Homo sapiens: one gene and its partners. The protein of the gene in region 4 interacts with the protein of the main gene of each other region in a pairwise test. Each region holds a gene or a part of one and is shown on either strand. Other genes may lie near its edges. The genes, in order: SLC35E3, SAR1A, CMTM4 and TTPA.

Region 1 (7,027 bases), on a different chromosome or scaffold from region 4:
TCCACTTTGCAAAAGTCCTAGCCATCCTGGTTATCTGGTTTCAAACCATTGCAGCCTAGAGACCTTATACTACAAGGAGAGAGGATTTTTTTCGTAGCCTTCTAACAGGTTTTAAAATGAGGACAGCAGCAGAAAAGCCATTAAAAAAAAAAAAAAAAAAAGGCAAAGAAACCAAGACCACAGCAGGCTGAGGCCATTTAGTGTGAAGGAAAGTCATCTTCATTCCTTAATGTCCCTAGGAGGCATCCTTGACTCAAAGTAGAGGATTGTGTCAACTCAACTTTTTTTTTTTTTTTCCATATGAAGCCAGCATTACCCTAATACCAAAACCAGGAAAGGACACAACCAAAAAAGAAAACTAAAGACCAATATCCTTGATGAACATAGATGCTAAAATCCCTAACAAAATACTAGCTAACTGAATCTAATGACGTATCAAAAAGATAATCCACCATGATCAAGTGGGTTTCATACCAGGGATGTGGGGATGGTTTAACATACAAAAGTCAATAAATGTGATACACTATGTAAACAGAATTAAAAACAAAAATCACATGATCGGCCAGGCGCAGTGGCTCACCCCTGTAATCCCAGCAATTTGGGAGGTCAGGGCGGGCGGATCACGAAGTCAGGAGATTGAGACTAGCCGAGACCATCCTGGCTAACACGGTGAAACCCCGTCTCTACTAAAAATACAAAAACAAAATTAGCTGGGCGTGGTGGCTGGTGCCTGTAGTCTCAGCTACTTGGGACGCTGAGGCGGGAGAATGGCGTGAACCCGCGAGGCGGAGCTTGCAGTGAGCCGAGATCGTGCCACTGCACTCCAGCCTGGGCGACAGAGTGAGACTCCAAATAAATAAATAAATAAATAATGGCATGATCATCTCAATAGATGCAGAAAGAGCATTTGACAAAATTCAGCATCGCTTTATGATTAAAACCCTTGGCAAAATCGGCATACAAAGGACATACCTTAATTTAATAAAAGCCGTCTATGACAGACCCTCAGCCAACATAATACTGAATGGGGAAAAGTTGAAAGCATTCCCTCTGAGAACTGGAACAAGACAAGGATGCCCACTCTTACCACTCCTCTTCAACGTGGAACTAGCTTCTTTATATTCTTCAAAGTCCGTAACAAAGACCCTAACAAAGTAGAGTAATTGTGTTTTTAATGATGTGCCAAGTATCAAGTTTAAGTTTTCTTTGGAACTTAAACTTCTTAATAGTTTATATCATGAATATCATTTTATCTAAATTCAGAAACAAAATGATTCTATAACTTTTTGGATAAAATTATGGGATAGATTTGAACAGAACTTTGTATGTGTATATAGTGGTCCAACCCATTTGTCCCCCTGTGCCCAGCCAAGTTATCTATAAAAAGGAATAATATTTTTACAACTACTTTGTGGATGTATGTGAAAATTAAATAAGTGAATACATGTAAAACAGAACAATTATTGGTGCATAATAAGTGTTATGTAAGTGTAAGCAGTGATCATCATGATTTTTATTATGTCCTCAAGTAGTTTCTAAGCTCTTTGAGGGCAGGAACTTTGTACATACTGCGTTCCTCAGAAGGCCTGGCCTAACTTTGTAGATATCCAATGAATGCTTATTGAGTTAAATAAGAATAAAAATGAGGCCAGGTGCAGTGGCTCAGGCCTGTAATCCCAGCACTTTGGGAGGCCAAGGGGTGCAGATCACCTGAGGTCAGGAGTTCGAGACCAGCCTGGCCAACATGGTGAAACCCCATCTCTACCAAAAAATTCAAAAAAAATTAGGTGGGTGTGGTGGCATGGGCCTGTAATCCCAGCTACTGGGGAGGCTGAGGCAGAAGAATCACTTGAACCTGGGAGGCAGAAGTTGCAGTGAGTCAAGATTGCACCACTGCACTCTAGACTAGGCGACAGAATGAGACTCCATCTCAAAAAAAAAAAAAGAATAAAAATGAGCAATTTAATAGAAAAAGATCTCGGCCGGGTGCAGTGGCTCACGCCTGTAATCCCAGCACTTTGGGAGGCCGAGGTGGGTGGATCATGAGGTCAGGAGTTCAAGACCAGCCTGGCCAAGATGGTGAAACCCATCTCTACTAAAAATACAAAAAATTAGCCGGGCGCAGTGGCAGGCGCCTGTAGTCCCAGCTACTCAGGAGAATGAGGAAGGAGAATCATTTGAATCTGGAGGGTGGAGGTTGCAGTGAGCCCAGATCGTGCCACTGCACTCCAGCCTGGGTGACAGAGTGAAACTCCGTCTCAAAAAAAAAAGAAAAAGATCTCGAAGGAGGTATGCCGAGATGTTAATGTGTGGGTGGTTGGGATTATAAGAATTCCTTATATTCTTTTTGCTTTTCTTTATTGTCTGATGTACAATAATAATAATGCATATGTATACTTTTTCTTTAGATTAATAAGAAAAATGAACCTGGAAATTCACAATCACAGAAAGGATGTTATTGCAGTATTTTTCGTTGATTCTTGTGGAAAAAATTACGTTTTTTCTAAACACGGTTCATTCTGCTTTTTTACTTGCAATTCTTACTGTCTCCCAACCCCAAATTCTCTTTCTTTTTTTTTTTTTTTTTTTTTTTTTTTTTTGAGATGGAGTCTTACTCTGTCGCCCAGGCTGGAGTGCAGTGGCGTGATCTCGGCTCACTGCAAGCTCCACCTTCCAGGTTCATGCCATTCTCCTGCCTCAGCCTCCCAAGTAGCTGGGACTACAGGCGCCCGCCACTGCGCCCAGCAAATTTTTTATATTTTTAGTAGAGATGGGGTTTCACCATGGTCTCGATCTCCTGACCTCGTGATCCGCCCGCCTTGGCCTCCCAAAGTGCTGGGATTACAGGCGTGAGCCACCGCGCCCGGCCCTCTCTTTCTAATCTTATTTATTAATGGTTGATATTTGAATTTTTTAAAATGCCGAATGAAATGTATCTTTGCTTGATGATTATGATTGCAGTGCTTTGCATTAATGGTTCTTTTGGTTTATTTGTAGCTTATGGTGCTGCTATCTGGAGTAATAGCTTTCATGGTGAACTTATCAATTTATTGGATCATTGGGAACACTTCACCTGTCACGTATCCTTTTCATATAACTTAGAAATGCATCGTCTTTTATATTTTCCAAAACTTTTACATTCATTACCTTATTTGAATCTCACACTAACTATTGCATGGCCTAAATTGAGTAGAGAGAGTTATTTTTAGCCTTTTACTGTATCTTTACCCACTAAAGGATTTTAAAGAAATATGAACTGAAGGGGCAAGTGTGGTGGCTCACACCTGTAATCCCAACACTTCAGGAGGCCGAGGCGGGTGAATCGCTTAAGGCCAGGAGTTCAAGACCAGCCTGGATAACATGGTGAAACCCCGTCTCTACAAAAAATATATAAATTAGCTGGGTAAGGTGGTGCACGCCTGTAATCCCAGCTACTCAGGAGGCTGAGGCACAAGAATTGCTTGAACTGGGGAGTCGGAGGTTACAGTGAGCTGAGATTGTGCCACTGTACTCCAGCCTGGGCAACAGAGCAAGACTCTGTCTTAAAAAAAAAAAAAAAGAAATATGAACTGAGGAAGTGGGTTAGCTTTTTGTGTCATGAATGTTTCTGAATTTTCTTATGTAATAGGTGACCTTTTCCCTTACAAAAATTAACTCAGAGTACCATTTCTTACAGACAGTGAGATTAAATATTTTTTGAATGAATAGTGAGGTGGAGGTTTGGATTTTCAAACAATTTTCAGGTATTTCTAGTAACAAAGTAGAGGAATGGTTAACAAATAACAAAAGATAATTTCAGGCCACTGGCATCTGGCTATGGAGTATGTGTTTGTACTTATTTGGATATGGGTGTGCCTGTTTTTCTCAATATTATTTCAAGTCAAGAAATGAAGTCATTGGCCGGGTGCCATGGCTCACGCCTGTAATTCCAACACTGTGGGAGGCCGAGGCAGGAGGATCGCTTGAGCCCAAGAGTTCGAGACCAGCCTGGGCAACATAGGGAGAACCTATCTCTACCAAAAAAAGAAAAAATAGAAATGAAGTTATATGTTAAAGGTCAAATTCAACTGTCCATTTGTACCATTCTGCTTGTCATCCTGTTTCTCTTCACATTTCACTCTGCCCCCACCCTTAGGCAAATGCAACAAATGAATTTCCCCAGGAAGTAAACAAGTAGGATATTTGCCAACTATCAATAAAAAACAACAACGATAAGTTTTTTAGAAAACCAATACTTAACAAATATTTATTTTGTGTCAGACACTGTTAGAAACATTTTGTATGTATTAGTCCATTTAATTCTCACAGCAGCTCTGTGAGGTAAAGTCTGTCATTTTTGTTTATAGAAAAAATAGAGGCACAGAGAGGTTAACCAACTCACTTAAGGCACACAGCTGACAAATGGGATGTCCAGATTTGAACCCATGCAGTCTAGTCCCCAAATTTGTACATCATACTACCCAATCAAGGCATCCAAATATGTGCTCTGATTTAAAACATTAATTTATTCAATAAGTATTTATTGAATACCCACTAAACCAGTCATTGATATAAAAATATTTATATACTGAACATCTACTGTGTGCCAGGCACAGGGGATACAGTAATGAACCACATAGACAAAAGTCTTTGCTCTCACAGGCTTGAATTCTGGTGAGGAAGACTAGAAATAGAAAACAATTAAATATTTATATACAGTGTTGGATAGTGTTAACTGCCAAGGAGTAAAAATAAAGCGGGGAAGAGAATGTGAAATGTCATAGACAGCATTGAAGTTCTAGGCAGGGCTAGTCAGGAAGGCATCAGTGGGAAGACGACATTTGAGTAAAGACCTGAAGGAAATGCAGTTGCTCCATGCAGATCAGGAGGAAAGAACATTCCAGGCAGAGGCAACAGCAGGTGCGAGGCCGTAAAAAAACCAAGGAAGCCTGTGTGGTTAGAGCAGGTTGAGCAAAGGAGGGAATGTGGTAGGCTGAGAAGTAACACAGAACTGAATTGAGTAGGGCGTTTATGTAAGGACTATTAAACTGAGTAAGATGGGAAGCCATTAGCATTTTGAGCAGAGAAGTAACATGATTTTACATACATTCTAATAGAAGCACTCAGTGGGCCGGGCACAATGGCACACCTGTCATTCCAACACTTTGGAAGGCCAAGACAGGAGGATCCCTTGAGCCCAGGAGTTCGAGACCAGTCTGGGCAACATAGTAAGACCCTGTCTCTACAAAAAGTTTTTTAAAATAAAATAAATCATAGAATCACTCAGGACTCCTGTGTTGAGAATAGACTTAAGAAGGATTTCTCAACCTCTGGGCTGTTGACTTTTTGGGCTAGACGGTTCTTAGTGCAGGCCTGTTTAGTACACTGTAGGATGTTTTCAGCAGGCCTGGGCTCTACCACCAGATGCCAGTAGCATACATACCCTTTGCCCAGTTGTGACAACCAAAAATGCCTCCAAAGATTGCCCACAAAGCAGAATCACCCATGGTTGAGAACTACTGGACTGAAAGAGGCACAGGAAACTCAGGAGACTGCTACGATATTCTAATTTAGAAGTAATAGTGGCTACCAGTATGATAGCAGTGGATATAGTAAGAAGTGATTGGATTCTGGAAATATTTCTAAGAAGAGCCAACAGGTTTTGCTGCCGAGTTGGATGTGGAGAAAGAGAAAACAAGGCTGATTTACATGGTTTTTGACCTGAGCACCTGGTAGAATGGAGTTGCCATCAACTAAGATAGGATACCCAGAAGGAGGTTTGGGGCTGGGGAGGAAGATAAGGTGCTCAGTTCGGGGAGTATTTTGTTGTTGTTGTTTTTGAGACAGGGTCTTGCTCTGTCACCCAGGCTGGAGTGAAGTGGCGCGATCATGGTTCACTGCAACCTCAAACTGTTGGGCTCAAGCATTCTTCCCACCTCAGCCTTCCAAAGTGCTGGGATTACAGGTGTGAGCCACCGTGCCCAGCCAGGTGCTCAGTTTTGGATAAACAAGTCAGGGTTCAAAGGTGACGTCTCAGCAGGAGGCATCACAGGGAGTGAGCAGTATGAAGCTGTGGTTTAAAGTGATGAGACTAGTTGAGATTACCAAGCAGACAAGTAGAAGAAAATAAGTCCAAAGACTGAGTGTTGGGTTTGAGTCCAGTATTTGGAATTCAGAGAGATGAGAAACTAGGTGGAGGATGAGAAGGAGCAGTCAGAGGTGGAAGGAAGGAGGAGACTGGCACAGAACCAGAGGAAGGAGGAGGAGGCGGGGTCGGTGTCTGTGTCAGATGCCGCTGGCAGGCCAAGTTCAAGGAGACTGGTCACCATTGAGGGACTGAGTGAGGTGGAGGGCACTGGGTTTGACCAGAACATTCTGCCTGGAGTAAAGTGGGTTGGGGTTGGGGTGACAGCCTGCCTGGAGTAAAGTGCAGAACTGGAAATACCACATGTAGACTGCTCTTTTGTTGTTGCTTTTACAAAAGGATTCATAAATAGTTTCTTTAAATTTGACTTCCTTCTCGTATAAATATACTTAAAAGAGAAGCTGAGGAGTAAAGAAATTTAAAGTGTTAGAGCCAGTGCACATGAAGATAGCTCATAATTGAAAATAAAACATTATGACTATTGCCAACAACCTTGGGAAGATCCTCTGTGTCTCAGGAAGTCACCTTCATGGGATCAAGCCACCATATGCCCCTGGTGACGCAGCCTGTGCTCTCCTGAGGCACTGCTGCTGCCCAGCGGGAACCTCCAGGCTGCTTAGGTGGGCTTGGAGGTCAGACAGGTCCAGGTGTGAACACTGAGCTCTGCCACTCTCTGTGGGCCTGACTAGTGTGGGAACTCTCAGGGTCTCACTCTGATCACTTATGAAATGTATGAAGTGGAGGAAGTACGATCTATGATGTTGGGTGGTTGTATTTGAGAGAATGTGTCAAGCACCAAGCAGGTGTTTATGATACATAAGTACTGCTGTTGGTAATGTTATTATAGCTAGCACATATGGTGCTTACTATATGCTAGAAGCTTTGTGTATATTAACTTATTTA
Region 2 (7,027 bases), on a different chromosome or scaffold from region 4:
TAACTAGGCTTGCCCTAAGCCAGTATATTTTCTTCTATACCTTTTGCTCAAATTTGTTAGTCTCCTCCTCCCTACATAATACATATTAATGCTTATTTTTTATGAACTGTTTGTGAGCATATCATGCCCCTTTACTCTTTAATACTTTAGTGCCTCTTCTTTATATAATACATATTAATGCTTGTTTTTAATGAAGTGTTGGTGAGCATATCATGCCCCTTTACTCTTTAATACTTTAGTGCCATTTTCTAAGAACAAAGATATTTCCTTGTATATAATCATAATAGTTATCAAATCCAGGAAGTTTTATTTTTATCCACTCTGTATTTCCTTTTTTTTTTGGTCAGTTGTCCTGATAATCTCTTTTATACCATTTTTTTCATCTTGACCAGGTATACGGTATCATATATCTAGTTATGAAGTCATTTTTGCATCCTTTATTCAATGGAGTGAAAGTATGTAGGAAATTAAATATTTATAAGTAATTTCAGACTTGTCAAAAGTTGCAAAAGTAATACAGTGACTATGTGTGATTACTCTGATACAAGTTGATATTTTGTATATTCTATCCATTTCAGACAGTTGGTGGAACATTTCCTTCTACCTTTTTGCTTTCCTCAGAAGTGCTTTTTGCCTACTCAGGCTATGTCTTTGGTTTCCAGATTCCTATCAGGTGTTTAGAGACATACAGAGTGTCATCTTTGTCTGATGGGCACTCAGTTCACATTTGACAAGACCGTAGGTATAGGAGTAAAACATTTAAGATGTGAGAATAAATATTCTGGGAAAGTAGGGAAAAGGAACTATTGAGATTCTGTCAGATTTACTTACTTGTTATTACACTGAGTGGAGAAGTCTTGTTTTGAAACATTAGGTTGAGCTAATACCGTTTTTTTCTTTTTTTTGAGATGGGGTCTTGCTCTGTTGCCCAGGCTGGAGTGCAGTGGCACAATTTTGGCATACTGCAACCTCTACTTCCTGGGCTCAAGCAATCCTCCCACCTGTTTTTTGTAGAGACTGGGTTTCCGCCATGTTGCCCAGGCTGGTCTTCAACTCCTGAGCTCAGGTGATCCACCTGCCTCAGCCTCCCAAAGTGCTGGGATTATGGGCGTGAGCCACTGTGCCCAGCCTAATACAGTTTTTAAAAAATGTATAGTAAAATATAACATTGGTCATTTCTAGTTGTTAAGCCTAATAATTTTATAGTCAGTGATTTCATTAACATATAATTACATTTTAATTAATTTATTTAATATTTATGCCCTGAAAAATCATGTATATTATGATCATAATCACATAAAATACCAGTAAAGAAAAGAGGCTGGAAGAAAATATCAAAATATTGACAAGGGGTGTGTTTTGATAGAGGGATTAGAAATGATTTTGTTTCCTTTTTTTCTGTAAGGAGCTTGTATTTTTTTCATTTGGGTAAGAATGGGTATATGGTGTCCTTTCTGCTGCTTCCACAAAAGGATTTGTAACTGCTTACAAATTTAAATTCAGAGCAAGATAAGACTGAACCTAGACCATCTGGAGAATGTAGAAGGACCAGACGCCAGATGGTTTTATATACCTGAACTGGGAATTGTAGATTGTTTGGTGTGATAAATTTAGGTTTCAGGTTTTGTTAAAAGTAAGAAGGGAAATGTATTGATGTAATTAGTTTTGTTTATTTGACTGAGGAAAATCTACTTAACAAAAACACTTTTACATAATAACCTAGCCACCATTTTATAAAAGTTACTAAAGTACTGTACATCTGGAGGTTTCCTTTTTTTTTTTTTGTATAACTTAAAAATTTTAACTTATAAAAGGAGAGCAAGTTCGATGTAACAAAATCAGTATAGAACTACGGAAAGTAAAATGGAAAGTTCCTTCAACCTCTTTTTCCTAGCTCCACTCTTTAAAGGTAACCATTATTAACTGATGTAGAGATGGTTCGTTATTCATTCTATTGCAAGGGCTAGAAATTAATGGCTTAGAAATGATAGTACAATTAAATCACTGCTTCCCAGCCTTTATCGTTTCATGTCACAAGCAAAAAACCAAGTAATATTTATAAGGCATGCTGGGTTAAATATGGTAGGTTGAGATAACTGGCCTGGGGCCTTGAACCACTTGTCAGGCCTAGTCTCCCTAAGGGCTGAGCAGAGGAATGTGTCAAGACGCCTACACACAAGTTGGCTAGAAACTAACTGGGACTAAAGTTACATGGACAAGTAATTTGTATCCTGATGTTTTAACTCAGAGGTTGCAAACTAGACTTGGCCCCAGGGGCAAGGCAAGTCATTTAAGTGAGTAAAATTGGCTGACTGTAAGACAGCAGGGAAATTTTGTCAAGCAAAAGTGTTCAGACATCATCTGAAGGGGCAGCCACTGCTTAGTTCCTGCTGATAATTGTCACGTGGATAAGTAGGCATGGGATTGCCAGATGTTGCAGTTTTTCAAAAAAAGCGGAAACTCTGATTTTCAAATTTACAAAAATCAGGTTCAGCTCATGGACCATCAGTTTGCATCCTCTGTTCTGAATTAATACTGGCCAGAACTTGGAGAAATCCATAGAGTCTAATCTTACTGAAACCCGACCAAGATTTGTCCATTTTATAGACCATTAGGTTATTCATTTTCACAATGTATATTTTTTACTCATGCAACTACAAACTTTGTTTTTTAGCACGTCGCGTTTGGAAAAATTATCTCCCAGCAATTAATGGGATTGTCTTTCTGGTGGACTGTGCAGATCATTCTCGCCTCGTGGAATCCAAAGTTGAGCTTAATGTATGTTTTGTCCTTTAATGTGTATTTTAATGTATATTTTGTTCTTTTTTGGCCTCTATTTTTTTTTAAGGAATATAGCTCAGTAGTGCCAATAATTAGTCATTCCAGTTAACATTTGGCAAAAAGACCTAGTTGCAGGAGGAAAATGTTTTAAATCTAAGACATTGCTTTTCAATGTCCTGAGGAAACTCAGCTCAAACTTAAATAAATTAACTGTTGTTTCTATCATACAGTGATTATATGGCCAAGTTTGCTCAGGATACTCCTCATTTATGCCTGTTGTCCCAGCATAATTAATAGTATTCTGTTTCACGTGTCATGAACAGTAATTCTGTTTTTTTTTTTTTTTTTTTTTTTTTTTTGACGGAGTCTTGCTCTGTTGCCCAGGTTGGAGTGCAGTGGCGCAATCTTGGCTTACTGCAACCTCCACCTCCTGGGTTCGAGGGATTCTTCTGCTTCAGCCTCCCGAGTAGCTGGGACTACAGGCACGTGCCACCACGCCCGGCTAGTTTTTTGTATTTTTAGTAGCGACGGAGTTTCACCATGTTAGTCAGGTTGGTCTTGATCTCCTGACCTCATGATCCACCCGCCTTGGCCTCCCAAAGTGCTGGGATTACAGGCATGAGCCACCGCGCCTGGCCCATGAACAGTAATTCTTTATAAGTAGTGTTGGCATAGTGAAAGCCTAAAAGCGATATTAGAGTTCTTTACATTTTTGAATCTGCATTCTCAGCTTGTGCCTACCCACCCTCCCACTGAATGACTTGCCAGACCTTCATGGTCTGTTCTCAGTCTTCAGTTTTGGTTGCATACATCCTTTGATACTATTAAGGACTCACTTCAAGTTTTCTCCTTTGTCAACATTGCATTTTCTCATGGCTTGATGGTTTCTATACTATTGGCTTTGTTATCCCTACTCCTTTACCCTATATCTCTTCTTTCTCTTTGATTTATAACTCCTTGCATTCTTGTTTCTGGCAACTTGAACCTGTCTTGAATTTATTTCTAAGTATGTTTCTCACATCTATAGCTCCAGCCTCATGTAGAATTGCCTGCCACGCAGTCTTTACCTTGCTTTTTTTTTTTTTTTTTAAACAGAATCTTCCTCTGTGGCCCAGGCTGGAGTCCAATGGTGCAATCACGGCTCACTGTAACCTCCAGACTTCTGGGCTCAAGCGATATTCCTGCCTCAGCCTCCCAAGTAGCTAGGACTACAGGCATACACCACCACACCCAGCTAATTTTTTTTAAAAAAGTGTTTTTGTAGAGACAGGGTCTCATTATGTTGCCCAGGCTTGTCTCAGTCTCCTGGCTTCAGGTGATCCTCTGCCTCGGCCTCATGAGGTGCTGGGATTACAGGCATGAGCCACCATGCATGGTCTCCATTCTCTTTGTTTAAACTCCTCTTTTCACTCTTGATTTTGGAGCTACCTCTCTGGCTGATACTTCTGTCTCTTTGAGAAGCACTAGTTCTTCTGGTTAGTCCTTAAATGTTGGTGTTCTCCAGAGTACTTTCTCCTAGGCTGGTCCCATCTACTCCCTTCATTTGGCACCTACATGTCAGTGACTCTCAAATGCATTTCTCTCCTCTAGACCTCTCCTGAGCTCTAATCTCATACCTAATCCTGCCTACTCTCGACAACTCCTACTACTGATTCTGTTTTCCTAGAATGGAACTATTTGTCTTTCCCACCCACCACCTACCTGGACATGCAGTCCACAAATCTGTGAATTAATATAAATCCTACCATGACCCTGATATGCACCATAATGCTAGAAGGAACTTTCTCAGACTTAATTGCCCTACTTAATATCCTTTGATAGTTCTCTATCATTTTCAGGATAAAATCTATAAATCTTTTGCATAGCACATAGGATCATTCATGATCCTCCCTCTGTTTCTTTTTACTGCCTACCTTGAACTATATTCCAAACAAACAACTTAGCCATCCTTGAATATGCACAAGTAGCTACTGCCTGGCTTTTTCACCTGTACCTCTCCTCAACCCCTCGCTTTGTCGGCAAATTTTAAAATGTTCTATAAGAGACCTCAGAGTTCAGATATGACTGCTTCTGGTAAGCCTCCCTTGACCTCTGAGACTGTGTTAGACTCCCACCTTACCAATGTCTGTTGTCTTTATTGATTTTTTTATAGTTCTCTCTCATCAGACTATGAACTAACATGATAGGGACTGTGTCTTATTTCTTTGCAAAACCCCTGCACCTAGCAAAGCATTAGACACATTAGGTACTTTGTTGTTGCTTAATGAATGAAGGACATTCTTATTCTAATTTTGTGTAACATTTCCTGGAATTCCAGATGGTCAAAGTACATTCCTCTTTATCTCTTTAACTCTGCTTTCCCCGCTAGCTTTCCTATTGGTGACAACTAGATTCCCAGGCTTGAAATCAGTGGCAGTTTTGACTCATTTGTCTTTTTTAAATTTTTTTTTTAATCATTTAGACATTGGTCTCTTCAATTCTTTCTTCAAAATGCCTCCTGCAGTATTCATTGAATGCTCTACCTTAAGCTAGATCATGATCTCTTACATGAACACCACAGATAGATACTATTTGTGAATTCATTATACTGAAAAATAAGATTTTATTCACTAACTTCTGGATTTGTGGTCTTTTAGGATATATTGCAGCTCACTTCTCACACTGGCCCCTAATGTGAGTCATCTCTTCTCATCCATTTACTTTGTCGCTGCATGTCTATCTAAATGCTTGAATCCAGCCATGCAGTACTGTGTGGCTTCCTGAATTATTGTCCTAATGCAAAGCCGTTGTTTATGTTCTTACTTCTCCTTTACACCTATCCAAACCCTGCCCTTCCTTTAGAGCCCTGTTTAGGTTCCAGATCTTTTCTAAGACTTTGCTCAAGCCCAAAATTGCCATTTTATTTCCCTGAACTTGTCTTAATGTTAATATTCAGTTCCCATTCATTGTGACACTTATCCACTATATTGTGTTCTTACTTGGCTTTGTTAACATAAATGTGGCTGGGCGTGGTGGCTCATGCCTGTAATTCCAGCATTTTGGGATGCTGAGGTTGGCAGATTACTTGAGGGGCAGGAGTTTGAGACCAGCCTGGCCAACATGGTAAAACTCCATCTCTACTAAAAAAATACAAAAATTAGCCAGGCGTGGTAGCACATGCCTGTAGTCCCAGCTACTCAGGAGGCTGAGGTGGGAGAATCGCTTGAACCTGGAAGTCACAGGTTGCAGTGAGCTGAGATTAAGAAAAAAGAAAAAAAACATAATGTGAACATAGAGTGAGGATTTTTTTGAGGACAGGAATGTGCTTCCTTTTGTATCCTCAGTGCCTGAGATAGTTACCCTTCCTACTTTATTCCTCTCAATGCCTGAGAGAGTTCTTCGCACACAATGGGACTTGGTGAATACTTGGGGAATTCCTGTAGTCATCTTTGAGGCTCTGTAGCCAGAGCATTCATTCTTATAGGACTTTGCTGAGGGACATCCTGAGGATAGTTTGTGGCTGAGCAGATTAGCTCAAAAGTTAATATTGGGGCAGTTCTGCTGCCTTGTAAATAAATAGAATAAAGTTGCAACTGTTTCGAGGCACTTAGGAGATTTTTACTTAATGTCATGGGTGTTATGTAATGTCAAGGTGAATCTTTAATCACTCAGGTATAAAGTTGATCAGATTTTCACTTTACATTAATGCCTTAAAAGATTAGTGGAAGTCAGAATTTTCATTATCTGGTGGGCTTTTGTAGATTCCTCACTTAATTCTTTTTTTTCTTTTTTTCTTTTTTTTCAATCTTTAGGCTTTAATGACTGATGAAACAATATCCAATGTGCCAATCCTTATCTTGGGTAACAAAATTGACAGAACAGATGCAATCAGTGAAGAAAAACTCCGTGAGATATTTGGGCTTTATGGACAGACCACAGGAAAGGTAAGAGAAAAATATTTGGGTTACATATAAAGGACATTAACAGTTTTTAAAACATGATGTTTCGCTATCTAGATTACCCTTTTCTTTTAAAGGCTTAAACAGGCTTAGGATTAGTTTTACTGTGAGTATTTTGTAAGCTCACTAGAGGCAGGAGTGTGTTCTTTTTAACGTTTTAAATGGGATTCATTCATCAGGTATTTGAGGAAGAAGGAAATGGTAGAAAAGGCAGATTTACTCTTCTAAGAGTTTATGATTATCTTTCAAATTTGATTCTGAGAAATTGCTTTTGAAATAGCCCTTTTTAGCCAGAAAATAATTTTTTT
Region 3 (7,027 bases), on a different chromosome or scaffold from region 4:
AAATGTCAACCAAGTCTGTATTTTTTTTTTAAATGTTCAGAAATGTGGTGGTCTTGTCCTTTGATGTAGTAAAAGCACTCCTTGAAATTTAACCAAAAATAATAATTCAAAAGAAGAATCCAGGCTACACTCATGAGGACATTTATTGACGCATCTTCCTAATAGCAAAAAAACTAGAAAACATAATCACCAGACTTTGCCACAGGGGATCATATGTAGCCTTTGGAAAGGAAAAAATTTCCAAGTCCTTTTCATTTGAGTCTGTCATAATACGATGATTATTTTTCTAATTTCTAATTTTCTTTAATGTTACAACATTTTCACTAACAAATGAGGGTAAATTCCTTTCAAATGGAAGAAGTTTTCCATTAGCATCAACAAATTTATTAAGCACCCACTATTGTGCAGAATGCTTTTTTTTTTTTTTTTTTTACAGAAAAGTGCATTTTAAAACAATTTAAGCTTCAAGTTTGTCCAAGTGGTCTGTATTATCTAAATCATTCTTCCCAAGGGCCTCCAAATTACAAAGAAAGTCATGAAAAGTTAAAGATTACAGTCAGTATATGAGCTTTAAGGCTATACTAAGGTAAAGCTAGTAACATCTACTATTTTAGTAATTTTTGAATAGAAGGTACTTGCATGTGGTACAAAATTCAAGGGCTGGGAGCAGTGGCTCATGCCTGTAAACCTTGGACTTTGGGAGCTGAAGGCAAGAGGATCGCTTGAGCCCAGGAGTTTGTGGCCAGCCTAGGCAACATAGCGAGACCGTCTCAAAAATAAAATAAAATAAAATAAAATACAAAAGGTACAAACAGTTATACAGCAGAAAATGTCTCCCTGACACCCTGGCCCTCGGCCACCCAGCTCCCCAACTTGTATCATTCCAGAGATATTCTGTATCACTATCAGTCTGTTGTCTGTTCTGGTTGCTATAACCAAATACCGTAAAAAGGGTAATTTTTTTTTTTTTTTTTTTTTTTGAGACGGAGTCTCGCTCTGTCGCCCAGGCTGGAGTGCAGTGGCGCAATCTTGGCTCACTGCAAGCTCCGCCTCCTGGGTTCACGCTATTCTCCTGCCTCAGCCTCCTGAGTAGCTGGGACTACAGGCGCCTGCCACCACACCCGGCTAATTTTTTATATTTTTCATTGAGACCGGGTTTCACCGTGTTAGCCAGGATGGTCTTGATCTCCTGACCTTGTGATCTGCCCGCCTCGGCCTCCCAGAGTGCTGGGATTACAGGTGTAAGCCACCGCGCCTGGCCAAAATGGGTAATTTATAAATAGAAATTTATTGCTCATAGTTCTGGAGGCTGGAAACTCCAAGATCCAGGTGCCAGCAGATTCAGTATCTGAGTGAGGGCCCATTCTTCACAGACGGCACTTTCTATGTGTCCTCACATGGCAGAATGAGCAAGGACACTCCCTTCAAACTCTTTTAAAAGGGCACTAATCCCATTCATGAGGGCTGAGCCCTCATGACTTAATTACTTCCCAAAAGGCTCCACCTCTTAATACTATCACACTGGGTGTTAGGTTCCAACATCTGAATTTTGGGGGAATGCCAACATTCAGACCATAGCAACCTCCAACAGGCTTTGATGACGTGGTGTCTTGAGACGCTGAGCTAGGGAGCATGGTGGGCTCACCAGCACTGTAATACTACCATTATCCCCAACTTACAATCCCCAAGTGAGAGACCTGCAGGAGATCTGCTTGTGGCCTGAGTGAACAAGTAGCTTGCCAAAAGTCTCATGGCCGATAAGAGATACGAAGTCCATCATACTCTCAGAAACACTCCCCTCAACACACACACACACACACACACACATTCTACCCTAAACAAGGGTGACTTCATGTCATTGTTCTCTCTCCCTGGAACATACCTCCATAAACCATCACTAGCCCTTTGCCTGGCTAATATAAAGTTTAGAATCAGCATTCTTCTATCTACAAAAAAACCTTGCTAGGATTTTGGGATCGTATTAAACCTATAGATCATTTGTGGAGAACTAATATTTTAACTATATTGAGTTTTCCAATCCTAATGAACACAGAATGCCTGTCTACTTATTTTGGTCATCTTTGATTTCTTACTTCAGTGTTTTGTAGTTTTCAGTGAGCAGATTCTATACATGTTTTGTGAGATTTATATCTAAGAATTTCATTCTTTTGAGTGCTGTTATAACTGATATTGGTTTTTTTGTTTTAATTTCCAATGATTTATTGCTAGGATATAAAAATACTATTGGTTATCGTGTGTTGACCTTATATCCTGTAACCTTGCTAACTCACTTATTAGTTCTAGGAGGTTTTTTATAGATTCCCATGTGATTATCTACCTAATCATGCCATATGCGAATAGGGACAGTTTTATTTATTTCTGATCTGTACGTCTCCTATTAATTTTTTTGCAACGGCTAGGACTTCCAGTATGATCTTGAATATGAGTGGTAACAGTAAACATCATTGCCTGTTTCCCATCATGGGGGAAAGCATTCATTCTTTCCCCACTGTAACATTATATATTACAGTATAATGTTAGCTGTAGATTTTTTGTAGATGCCCTTTTTCAGGTTGAAGAAGTTCCTTTCTCTTCCAAGTTTGCTGACAGCATTTATTATGGAAAAGTACTGAATTTTGTCAAAAGTTTTTTTTTTCTGCATCAAATGATAGAATCATGTGGCTTTGGGTTTTGTTTTGTTTTTGAGAAACGGTCTCACTCTGTTGCCCAGGCTGGAGTGTAGTGGCACGATCGCGGCTCACCGCAGCCTTGACCTCCTGGGCTCAAGCAATTCTCCCACCTTAGCCTACAGCTGGGACTACAGGCATGCACAACCATGTCATGCTAATTTTTGTATTTTTTGTAGAGAAGGGGATTCACCATGTTGCCCAGGCTGGTCTTGAACTCCTGGGCTCAAGCAATCCACCTGCCTCGGCCTCCCAAAGTGCTGGGACTACAGACATAAGCCACTGTGCCTGGCCTGTTATTTTAAGTTATTAATATGGTGTACACCTATAACATTTACTTTCAAAAACTGCACCAACCTTTTTGTTCCTGGGATAAATCAAATTGGTTTGGTGTATTATTCTTTCTCCATTATGCTGGGTTTTATTTTCTATATGGTATTTTGTTGAGGATTTCTGTGTCTGTGTTCATATAAGGAATATTGGTCTGTAGTATCATTTTCTTGAACTGTCTTTGTGTGGTTTTGTAAAACACATGTACGCTCTACATTTAACAACTTCTTTTGAGATCGTGGATTATAATTTCACTATTTTTAATCATCAAAAAAACTTAAGAGTAATTATAACTTTGCTTTTCTGCCAGAATTTATTTGACTCCAAGTCCTTGATCAGGAAGACAACTCCTAAAGATAACAATCTTCCTAAAGGAAAATGGGACTGTTTTACAAGGAGCCACAGAATGGTGGATCTGAGAATCCAACATAGAGAAACCCACTGCTTCATCTACCATTATGCGCTTGTATATGCATGACTTCAGGGATAAATGGGAGCCAGAAGTACAAAGGAATCTTCAGTAGTAAACAAAACGCAGAACCCTTCACGGTTTGACCAGGGTCATTGTGTGTCTGCCTGGTCATTTGACCAGCTCTTACGAATCAGGAACCCAGCTGAACCTCAGTTGAACCAGCCCCTCCAACAGAACTGAGGGGATTTGGGGCTGATAAGCTCAGTGCTATGTCTACAGCCAGTCATTTCTCAAAGTTGCAGCTTTGTAAATGTAGCTATATTTGTGTTGCATATGATTTCTATAATGTATTACTGCCCCACCCCTGCACATCCTCCAGAGAACAGTAACCAGCCAGGGATTGTGCTGACTGGCTTGAGATTTAAAAAACTAACAAGGTTTCCACCAAATAAAAGAGATGCCATTACCCACCCCTGAAGTGCAAATACTCACATTTGTTTTTGAGTTACGTAAGAAAGCAACTATCAAACATTAACCTCTTAATTCTTACAATTCCTAAAATGGTCAATTAGTCATTACTACCCATACTGTACAACTGAGGAACCCAGATTCGATGAGATTAAGAGACATCAAAATCAGCTGAGCTAAAATTTGCATTTAAACATTTCCAGGCCAGGCGCAGTGGCTCACACCTGTAATCCCAGCACTTTGGGAGACCAAAACAGCAGGATTGCTTGAGCTCAGGAGTTCGAGATTAGCCTCTAGTTTGAGGCAACATAGCAAGACCTCGTCTCTACAAAAATAAAAAAAAAAATAGCAGGGCATAGTGGCACATGCCTGTAGTCCTGGCTATTCAGGAGGCTGAGGCAGGAGGCTCCCTTGAGCCCAGAAGTTCGAGGTTACAGTGAGCTATGATCATGCCACTGCATTCCAGCCTGCAGTGACAGAACAAAAATCTGTCTTAAAAAAAAAATTCCTATTACCCATCTTTTGTTATTAAAAAGTCCTATACAAATACATTGTCAGAAAGTCATCTAGGCATGGGAAGGGCTCAAGAAAGGGATGTGGATCAGGTGCGGTGGCTCACGCCTGTAATCCCAGTTTGCGACCAACCTGGGCAACACAGTCTCATTAGACTGTCTTTATTCATTTAAAAAAAAAATTCACACAAGGAGGAAGAAGATAATTTAAATCAGTTGTTTAACCACACTAGACATTCTCCCCAACTAAGAGATACGTACAGGTTTCATTTTGAAAAGATATAGGCGGAGGTAAGTGACTCATGCCTGTAATCTCAGCACTTTGGGAAGCCGAAGAGGAAGGATTGCTTGAGCTCACGAGTTTGAAACCAACCTGGGCAACACAGGGAGACCCTATCTCTACAAAAAATTTAAAAATTAGCTAGGCATAGTGGCATACACCTGTAGTCCCAGCTAGTTGGAGGGCTGAGGTGGAAGGATCACCTGAGCCCAGGAGGTCGAGGCTGCAGTAACCTATGATTGTACCACTGCACTCCAGCCTGGGCACAGAGCAGGACCTTGTCTCAAAAAGAAAAAGAAAAGATAAAATCTATGCAACTGCACCGTTTAATTTTTTCATAATGTTTCAGATTAGCTTTAGTATCCAATCACATTCCATTAAAAATACCAATTTAACTTAAATCATAAGGAATTAAACTATCTTTAATTCAAACACATAATTATGTTTTTGGTGATATTTTCACACAGTTTCTTTAGAGACAGGCATTGTTAGCACTATGACAGCTAACATTTATTGCACATCAGTTAGATACCTAATACGGTAGGTACTAACTTACACATATTATTTCATTTTCTTAATCCTTTGAGGGAGGTATTGGCAGTCTCATTTTACCGAAAAATCTCAGCTTTAAGGTTGACTATTTATCGAAAGCTGGTTGCTAGCACCTGTGTGAGGTTTTGTTGTTTTTTTTTTTGAGATGGAGTCTTGCTCTGTCACTCAGGCTGGAATGCAAGGGCACAATCTCAGCTCACTGCAACCTCTGCCTCCCAGGTTCAAGCGCTTCTCCTGCCTCAGCCTCTGGAGTATCTGGGATTACAGGCACTCGCTATATGCCTGGCTAATTTTTTGTATTTTTGTAGAGATGTGGTTTCACCATGGTGGCCAGGCTAGTCTTGAACTCCTGACCTCAAGTGATCCAGCCACCTCGGACTCCCAAAGTGCTGGCATTACAGGCGTGAGCCCGGCCTGTTGCAAGGTTAACACTGAAAGGATATAGAAAGGTAAGTCTCAAACTTTAATGTACACGTGGATCACCTGGGGAATCTTGTTTAAATGCAGATGACTCAGAAGTTCTGGGGTAAGGCCACTGATTCTGCATTTCTAACAAGCCCTTAGGTGATGGCAATGCTGCTGGCCTAAGGCCAAACTTGGAATAGCAAGGATCTACAGGTTGCAATAGGCCACAAAAAACACCACCAAAAAGTCTACAGCCCAACGCAGGGGCTCACGCCTGTAACCCCAACACTTTGGGAGACCAAGATGGGCAGATCACTTGAGGTCAGGAGTTCAAGACCAGCCTGGCCAACATGGGGAAACCCCATCTCTACTAAAAAATAGAAAACTTAGCCGGGCGTGCTAGTGGGCGCCTGTAATCCCAGCTACCTGGGAGGCTGAGGCAGGAGAATCACTTGAACCTGGGAGGTGGAGGCTGCAGTGAGCCAAGATCTTGCCACTGCACTGCAGCCTGGGTGACAGAGCAAGACTCCATCTCAAAAAAAAAAAAAAATCTAAAAAAACTAAATTTATGGCCAGTCGCAGTAGCTCACGCCTATAATCCCAGCACTTTGGGAGACTGAGGCGGGTGGATCACCTAACGTCAGAAGTTTGAGACCAGCCTAGCCAACATGACGAAACCCCGTCTCCACTAAAAATACAAAAATTAGCCAGGCATGGTGGCAGGCGCCAGTAATCCCAGCTACTCGGGAGGCTGAGGCTGGAGAATTGCTTGAACCCAGGAGGCGGAGATTGCAGTTAGCTGAGATGGTGCCATTGCACTCCATCCTGGGCATCAAGAACAAAAGTCTAACACAAAGAAAAAAAAAACATACACACCACTAAATTTATTTTTAGACATGGGATCTTGCTACGTTGCCCAAGCTGGAGCACAGTGGCTACTCCGAGGCACCATAATAGCTCCCTGTGACCTTGAACTCCTAGGCTCAAGCAGTCCCCCCACCTCAGCTTCCTGATTTTTAAAAGTCAAATTTTTCTCCAAACCGCAGAGTTAGAACTTACTCATATTTCTTGATGGATTCTGAGTTTTGTAACATCTCAGAAGTATCTTCATAATGACTTCTTATTTTCTTTTCAGTTTAAATTTAGAGTCCAATTTCTTGGAGTTTTGTGGGATTTTCATCAAGGCTGGGAAGCCAACTACACCAAAACCATTTGAAGTTGCCATACCCTTCAAGCAGGTCCCTTTCCTTTACTCACCCACATATAACCTCTCAGAGTTTAAGTTCTAGAGATTAACAAACAACAGAGTTAGGCGAGATTCTGGGGGCTAGGCCCAAAAGTTCTTCCGGATGAAAAGTACAAATCTAGGCCAGGCGTGGTG
Region 4 (7,323 bases):
GGTGGATAAAACAAGATTGGCAAAATATCATTGATTGCTGAAGCAGACTGTATATTGGTATTCATTACTATTATTTTTACATATGGTTGAAATGTTCTGTGGTAAATATTATTTTATAAATTTTACATAGAGTTTCCCAAGTGATGTGGGGTAATATTTCTGCTTCAATGGAAAATTATGCATTACATAGACTCTAGATGGCACCTCCTGCATTATTTGATTCTCATTCTATCGAAGCTATTTTACAATTCTGTGAACTGTAGATAACTGATAGCAATGGCAAATAATTCTTGTCTAATAACATGCTAATTCTGAACTGCCTGGAGGAGTTTTGATTGACCTCTCTCCCTCACTGTGAAAGAAGTTAGTTTTGCCTCCATTTGCACATCCCTTTCAACATCCTTTACTCCATGTAAATGTGTGCTTTTTTTTTTAACTTATTTGAACTTGCAATAACATGTGTCTACTTTCCTCCTTACCAGTTGAATAAAATCTTTAACACTTGTTCAGTTTTATATATGTATAAGTGTCATAATTTTATCTCTTTTTGAAAATGTTATCTTTTAACAGTGAAAAATATTTGTCTTTTCTGTGAAGCTGAAAGTAAAATAAATTGGTATACTTATGAATTATTATGCTAATAAATAACTAAATGTTAAATAATTTCAGAGTAAATTGTAAGGTAGCTACAAAAGTCAACTAACTTTTCATTCCAGTTTTGCTTTTATTTCCTCATACCATTAGTTCCAGAAATCCCTTTGGACTCTTTCAGCCAGAGGCCTGGATGCATTTTCGGTAAACACAAGAGCTCACCAGAGTAAAATATGAGCATAGAAAATTTGAAAACATTTCAAAACAAAAATTGAGTAACAGCTCTTGAAAGCTTGTGCCAAGAATTCTAAAATTTTTATATAAATCCAAGATAACATTGTTGAAAGACAGAAGCACGATCTGTATAATTTAACCCCAAAGTAATCAAGTTGTAGTGTAAAATTCTCACCTTTTATGTCTGCCCCATCAATTCTTCAACTTTTTTCTCTCTTTCCCATAGTCGTGCAATCTTTTCTACCACTGGGCTAACTGCTGACATTGGCATTGCTTCCCACTTGAGTTATAGATATCCACCGCTCCCTCTGCCACCTCTTAGGTATTTAGGAGCCACCTCTCACCACCATCTGGGCTCCATGTTGGCTTCATTTTCACTGAGTTTAATGGCAATCAATCAGTCAATCTTATTGATTTCTTAGAAGAGTTTCACAGATGCAGAAATAACAGATTTATCAGTTCTAAAAAGGGACACTAGGCCAGGCACAGTGGCTGACACCTGAAATCCCAGCACTTTGGGAGGCTGAGGCGGGCTGATCACGAAGTCAAGAGATAGAGACCATCCTGGCCAACATGGTAAAACCCCATCTCTACTAAAAATACAAAAATTAGCTAGGCATGGCAGTGTGCGACTGTGGTCCCAGCTACTCAGGAGGCTGAAGTAGGAGAATCTATTGAACCCTGGAGGCGGAGGTTGCAGTGAACTGAGATTGCATCACTTCACTCCAGCCTGGCAATAGAGCAAGACTCCGTCTCAAAAAAAAAAAAGGGATACTACAATGAAGGAAACCAAAAATATGCCATTCACAATATACTCCTTTGGTCTATTTTGAGATGGCTATTCAGAGGGACTGCCAGCACAAGAATAGCCCTGAAAAGCTGTCTTTTATAGGGGAGATTTGTATCTGTAGAGAAAATCCATATAGGTGAAATAAACATCCAAGCTTTCTCTGAGGCTCCCCTTCTCTGGATCTAGGAAAGATTAACTTTTGGGAAAAAGGGACTAAAAGTTGGACACCTTAAAGGTCCACTAGGGAAACTGTTACTACAGGCTCCTGTCTTATTCTTTCTGAGAGCTCCTCCCTGGAGGATTTTATCTGCAAAACTAGGTAGGCTCTATGCCATGCTTTCCCCCTCACTTTCCCATAACCCGTGTCTCCATCTCTCCTCGAGAAGCCCCAAGCCCCTATTCTTTCTGTAACCTCAGGATGGTATAAAACTTCATTATCTGGCCCCTTCTTTAAGTCTCATACTTTGTGTATGACTCCCTTGTTTACACACGTTAATATACGCATGTGCCTTTTTCCCATTCGTCTGTCTACTGTCAGTTTGTTTTATAGACTAAAATCATGGAACTTACAGAGGGGAAGAGACATTCTCTTTGCACCTTCAATGGCTATAGCTAGATAATGTCCCCGATCTCTCACTGAACTTTCTGCCCAATTTCAAAAAAGTGGATGCTAATTACTAAAAACAAGTAGGAGAGAGCATTGAAAAAAATCTTTTGGAAGGGAGGAAAACATGCTCTATAGGCCCTCTCTTATTATTTTTAGACACTTAAAACTTCTAGAGAAGAAAGGCTACCATTGTCTTTTAATTCTTCGGAGCTTCCAGAAAGGCCTTGCACAGTCAGCCCCTCTTGACTAGTACTTTCTTCCTTCCCCCTCTCTCCTTTGGTTGGCAAACATTCCCAGTGCATTCACTAAGGCCGTGCAAACAGCCCCTTTGTGAGGCCTTTCCAAATCTCTTAGGCAGTGTCGGTAGTGTTCCTCTGTGTTCTCACACCATGGTCTCCAAACCTGTTTTGTACACTTGTCACATTGACTTGTAAACCTTTACTCAAATAGCTTCCGTCTCACTCTGAGTATAAGCCAAAGCTAGGAATCTTTTGTCCCCAGGTATAGTTGCTTTCTGGTTGGATTGGGATTATTTACTCTAATGCTTCCCATCTCCCTCAGAACAGAAGCCAAAGCCCACAGCCTTCCAGTCCCAGATACCCCTGGGCCAAGCTCGCTCACCTCACTCAGGTGTTTATTCCAACGTCACTGTAGGTGCTGCCCACTTTTTGGCTTCGTTTCCCCATAGCATTGACTGCCATTTCTTATATCACATTATTTACTGATTTATCTTGTTAATCATCCATTCCCTCCCCCAAAAGAATGAAAACTCCTTGAAAGCAAGAGTTGTGTCTATTTTGTTCACAGGAGTGCCCTCAGTACCTAGAATAGGGTCTGGACACAGTAACCACCCAATCACTCTTTCTTTAATGAATGAAATGGCAGTCTCTTTCTCCACCCTCTGAGCTCCTTAAAAGCAAAGATTTGGTTTAATTTGTTTTTCTCCAAGTCCAGCATTTACCTGGAGCATAGTATGCATTTAATAAGAAACGGTTTCATGGATTCTCTCTTGGGAAGACAAAACAATTCTAGGCTAGTTCCAATATGGAGAAATCAAGAAAAGGACAACGGAACAGCCTTTCAAGTTTCCACATTATTTCCCTACTTCATCTTCATTCCCCAGGCTTTCATAGACTCAATCATATAACAGCTTTGGACTGTCCATTTTAGCGAGTAGACATGCTTAAAGTTTAGTGATGGTGGAGTGTAACAGAGTAAGTTTATGGTGCTAAAAATATATGGAGGCCAGTCATGGTGGCTCAGGCCTGTAATCCCAAAACTTTGGGAGGCCCAGGCGGGAGGATCACTTGAGCCCAGGAGTTGGAGGCTGCTGTGAGCCTTGATCAGACTGCTGCACTCCAGCCTGGGCGACAGTGAGACCCTGTCTCTAAATAAGTAAATAATAAATTAATAAAAAATATAAATATATAAATATTGGTGCGGAAGGGGGTCAGGGTACGCGCTAGTCATTTATTTGTGTCAGTAACAGGGGCCGGTGCCAGGATTAGAGAAGTTTTCCCGAATCGGGAGGAAGGGAGAAAAGCGGTGAGGCTGCCAAGGAGGCATTATGGAATGCGTGTTTTAGAATGCATGCTGTAATCCAGTGCGAGGCGAGGGGTCATCAGTCTGGAATCTGATGGAAGGAGAAGGGAGAGGGCTCAGTAGCGCGTCGGCCACTGGCCATTAAAGGCTCGTTCTAAGGCTCCTTTCAGCTCCAAGATTGCAAGAAGGAAGGAAGAATGGAAGGAAGAGAGAGGGAGGAAGGAAAAAGAAAAAAAAAAAGATTCTCTAGTAGATCGTAAAAATCATCCCAACTAACTTTGACATCGTTTCCTCGGTGTTTGAACATCAGTGGCTTCCCTCGCTGGGAAAAAGCTGGGGTCCCTAACTAAAGCTGCTAAACAGGTGGCTAGCACCCGTGGGGACACTGTGCGGTTTCCTTTAAGAGGCAGCTCTGCTCGCCGCGGGTCCGGCGTGCGAGGCCGGAGACCGCCCTGCCAGGCTGGAGAGTGGTTGTGCGACGGGCAGCGGCCGCAGAGGCGGGGCCGAGGGTGGCGCGGGGCGCGCGCTTTTCCCGGGTGCCCGGGTAGCTGCGGCCGCAGCAGCGGCGGCGGGCATGGCAGAGGCGCGATCCCAGCCCTCGGCGGGGCCGCAGCTCAACGCGCTACCGGACCACTCTCCGTTGCTGCAGCCGGGCCTGGCGGCGCTGCGGCGCCGGGCCCGGGAAGCTGGCGTCCCGCTCGCGCCGCTGCCGCTCACCGACTCCTTCCTGCTGCGGTTCCTGCGCGCCCGGGATTTCGATCTGGACCTGGCCTGGCGGGTAAGCGTGCGTGCCCAGGGCGCTCGGCAGTGCGCACCTCACCCGCCCCGTCCCCCGCCCCACGACCCCGGATATCTGACCCCTGCCGAAGCCCAGGGTGCAGGCAGGACCCTGGCGGGTAACGCGCCCCTAACCACCCGGCGTGGGCGCTGAGGCTGTAGATGTTCCGAGAATCCAGAGCTGGTCCTCCAGTTTCTCTGGGTCATGGAAACGACAAAGCTAGAAAGTGTTGGAGTCATGGGATAATGGCCCATTTGATCTCAAGCATGGAGAACTCCTGCGCTAGATGAGTCTCCTGAACCTACAAAGTTTGGGGGACATGCCTTCCTCTCCCTGCAGGAAAGCCTGTGGTACAAACAAAGTAACAGCTTACAAGTTGGAAGCTCAGACTTATCACACGTGACCAGATTAACTACGTATAGCGGGGAAAATGAAATTGCTGGTAAAACTGAAGTTCTGAAGCCATATAGTAGCAACATAGTATTATTACTAGTAACACTTAAGTGTCAAGACAGTAAAGCAACCCAGTATAGTTCGAGTCTGGGTTGTAGTCGGGCAGTTCTTTTGGTTTCTGGTATGTTACAGCTCACTGAAAGAAAAGGTGATGGAAAGATAGGAATCAGAAAGAGGGATGCGACCTTGAGTTCTGTCACTTTAGGTTTGGTGTCCTTATCTGTTAAATAATGATGGAAATGCCTGTCTCATTGATTTTTTGTGAAGATTGAACATTAACCAGTTTAACAAAACAAGCTGTGCCCAGCACAGTGCCTGGCACACAGTAAGCATTCAGCAGTTCGACCAGATCTAGCCCTTTCTCTAAGTGGCTTGTTCAGTGTCACACAGCTGCCTAGCAGGAAAGATATTATAGTACAAAATTCCAGTGTGTCTCAGTATGAGGTTTTTGAGGGTTTCTCTTGTTTGTTTTAGAGTGAAAGCAACTTTATTAAGAATGTAAAGAAACAAAAGAATGGCTACTCCATAGAGACAGAGCAGCCTGAGGTTGTTTTTAACTTAAGTAAAATTATGGTAAAAATAATCTAGGTAACACAAAATCCTAAAACGTGAAAAGTAAGTTTCTAACAGTAACTTTCTAAAGGAAAAAAGCTCCCTACCTCAAACCTTAGTTTGTCAGTCACATACCCAGAGGCTGGTTAGTGTTACTCATTTATCTTTTTAAACAGCCAGAGGTTGCACAAGCATGTTTGTGTGTGATTTCTATTTTGCCTTTCTTACCTGTCTTTGAACTAGGAGCATCCCATATCAACTGGTATACATCCATCTTACTCTTTATTGGGCTGCTGTTATTCTACTGGATGGATATATTAGACTATATTAAAATGTATCTAACCTGTTATTGGACTTAGGGCTTATTGCTGTTCATTCCTTCATTCAACAATTATTTTTTGGACTCTACAATTTGCCTAGTAGTACACAAGATGCAGTCAACAAGGCGGCTGTGGTTTCTTCCATCACTGACTGGGCATTCCTCATGTCCTCATACTTTGTGCATAAATAGGAATATAAATTTACAGGATAAATTCAACCGGTGAAATTGCTGGATGAAATTAGATGTGTATTTTTCAGTGTTGAGTAATATAACAAACTGTCTTCCAAAGAGTTTTCAGTGCCTTCCAAAGGTCGCAGTAGCTCAGGCCTGCAATCCCAGCACTTTGGGAGGCTGAGGATGGTGGATCAATTGAGCTCAGGAGCTCACGAACAGCCTGTGCAACATGGTGAAACCTCATCTCTACAAAAAATAACAAAAATTAGCCAGGTGTGGTGGCACGTGCATGTAATCCCAGCTACTTGGGAGGCTGAAGTGGGAGAATCGCTTGAGCCCAGGAGGTGGAGGTTGCAGAGAGCCGAGATTGTGCTACTGCACCACAGCCTGGACAACAGAGTGAGGCCCTGTCTCAAAAAAAAAAAAGAAAAAAAAGAAAAAAAACTCTATAACTCATCACTCTGATATTACATGATTTTGCCTTTTCCTCCATAACCCACACTGTATTATCAAACACAATTTGTGTATAAACCTGCTAAAAGAGATATACTTTTTCATTGTTATTATAATATGCATTTATTTAAGTGTGATTAATAATCTTTTATATACATGTAAAATTTCAAAATTTCTTTCCAGTTAACTGAAAATGGCCTGTTTTTGCTTTTGTTCTTTTTTTTTTTTATTATACTTTAAGTTTTAGGGTACATGTGCACAATGTGCAGGTTTGATACATAGATATACATGTGCCATGTTGGTTTGCTGCACCCATCAACTCGTCATTTACATTAGGTATTTCTCCTAATGCTATCCCTCCCCCAGCTCACCACCCTCCAACAGGCCCCAGTGTGCGATGTTCCCCACTGTGTGTCCAAGTGTTCTCATTGTTCAATTCCCACCTCTGAGTGAGAACATGCAGTGTTTGGTTTTCTGTCTTTGTGATAGTTGCTGAGAATGATGGTTTCCAGCTTCGTCCACGTCCCTGCAAAGGACATGAACTCATCCTTCTTTATGGCTGCATAGTATTACATGGTGTATATGTGCCACATTTTCTTAATCCAGTCTATCATTGATGGACATTTGGGTTGGTTCCAAGTCTTTGCTATTGTGAATAGTGCCGCAGTAAACATACGTGTGCATGTGTCTTTATAGCAGCATGATTTATAATCCTTTGGGTATATACCCAGTAATGGGATTGCTGGGTCAAATGGTATTTCTAGTTCTAGATCCTTGAGGAATCACCACACTGTCTTCCACAGTGGTTGAACTAATTTACACTCCCA

What was found.
Region 1: the proteins of TTPA (region 4) and SLC35E3 interact in binary tests that used the Homo sapiens proteins (3 or more experiments, as listed by UniProt).
Region 2: the proteins of TTPA (region 4) and SAR1A interact in binary tests that used the Homo sapiens proteins (3 or more experiments, as listed by UniProt).
Region 3: the proteins of TTPA (region 4) and CMTM4 interact in binary tests that used the Homo sapiens proteins (3 or more experiments, as listed by UniProt).

What each region holds. Positions count from the first base shown.
Region 1 is NC_000012.12:68,756,160-68,763,186, forward strand, and holds part of SLC35E3 (solute carrier family 35 member E3), read left to right. Parts: intron 1-2,997; coding exon 2,998-3,080; intron 3,081-3,880; coding exon of another isoform or gene 3,881-3,926; exon of another isoform or gene 3,927-4,232; intron 4,233-7,027. UniProt on the Homo sapiens protein: Putative transporter.
Region 2 is NC_000010.11:70,153,515-70,160,541, reverse strand, and holds part of SAR1A (small COPII coat GTPase SAR1A), read left to right. Parts: intron 1-2,674; coding exon 2,675-2,778; intron 2,779-6,572; coding exon 6,573-6,704; intron 6,705-7,027. UniProt on the Homo sapiens protein: Small GTPase that cycles between an active GTP-bound and an inactive GDP-bound state and mainly functions in vesicle-mediated endoplasmic reticulum (ER) to Golgi transport.
Region 3 is NC_000016.10:66,686,726-66,693,752, forward strand, and holds part of CMTM4 (CKLF-like MARVEL transmembrane domain-containing protein 4), read right to left. Parts: intron 1-7,027. UniProt on the Homo sapiens protein: Acts as a backup for CMTM6 to regulate plasma membrane expression of PD-L1/CD274, an immune inhibitory ligand critical for immune tolerance to self and antitumor immunity. May protect PD-L1/CD274 from being polyubiquitinated and targeted for degradation.
Region 4 is NC_000008.11:63,083,037-63,090,359, reverse strand, and holds the start of TTPA (alpha-tocopherol transfer protein), read left to right. Parts: upstream 1-4,306; 5' UTR 4,307-4,338; coding exon 4,339-4,542; intron 4,543-7,323.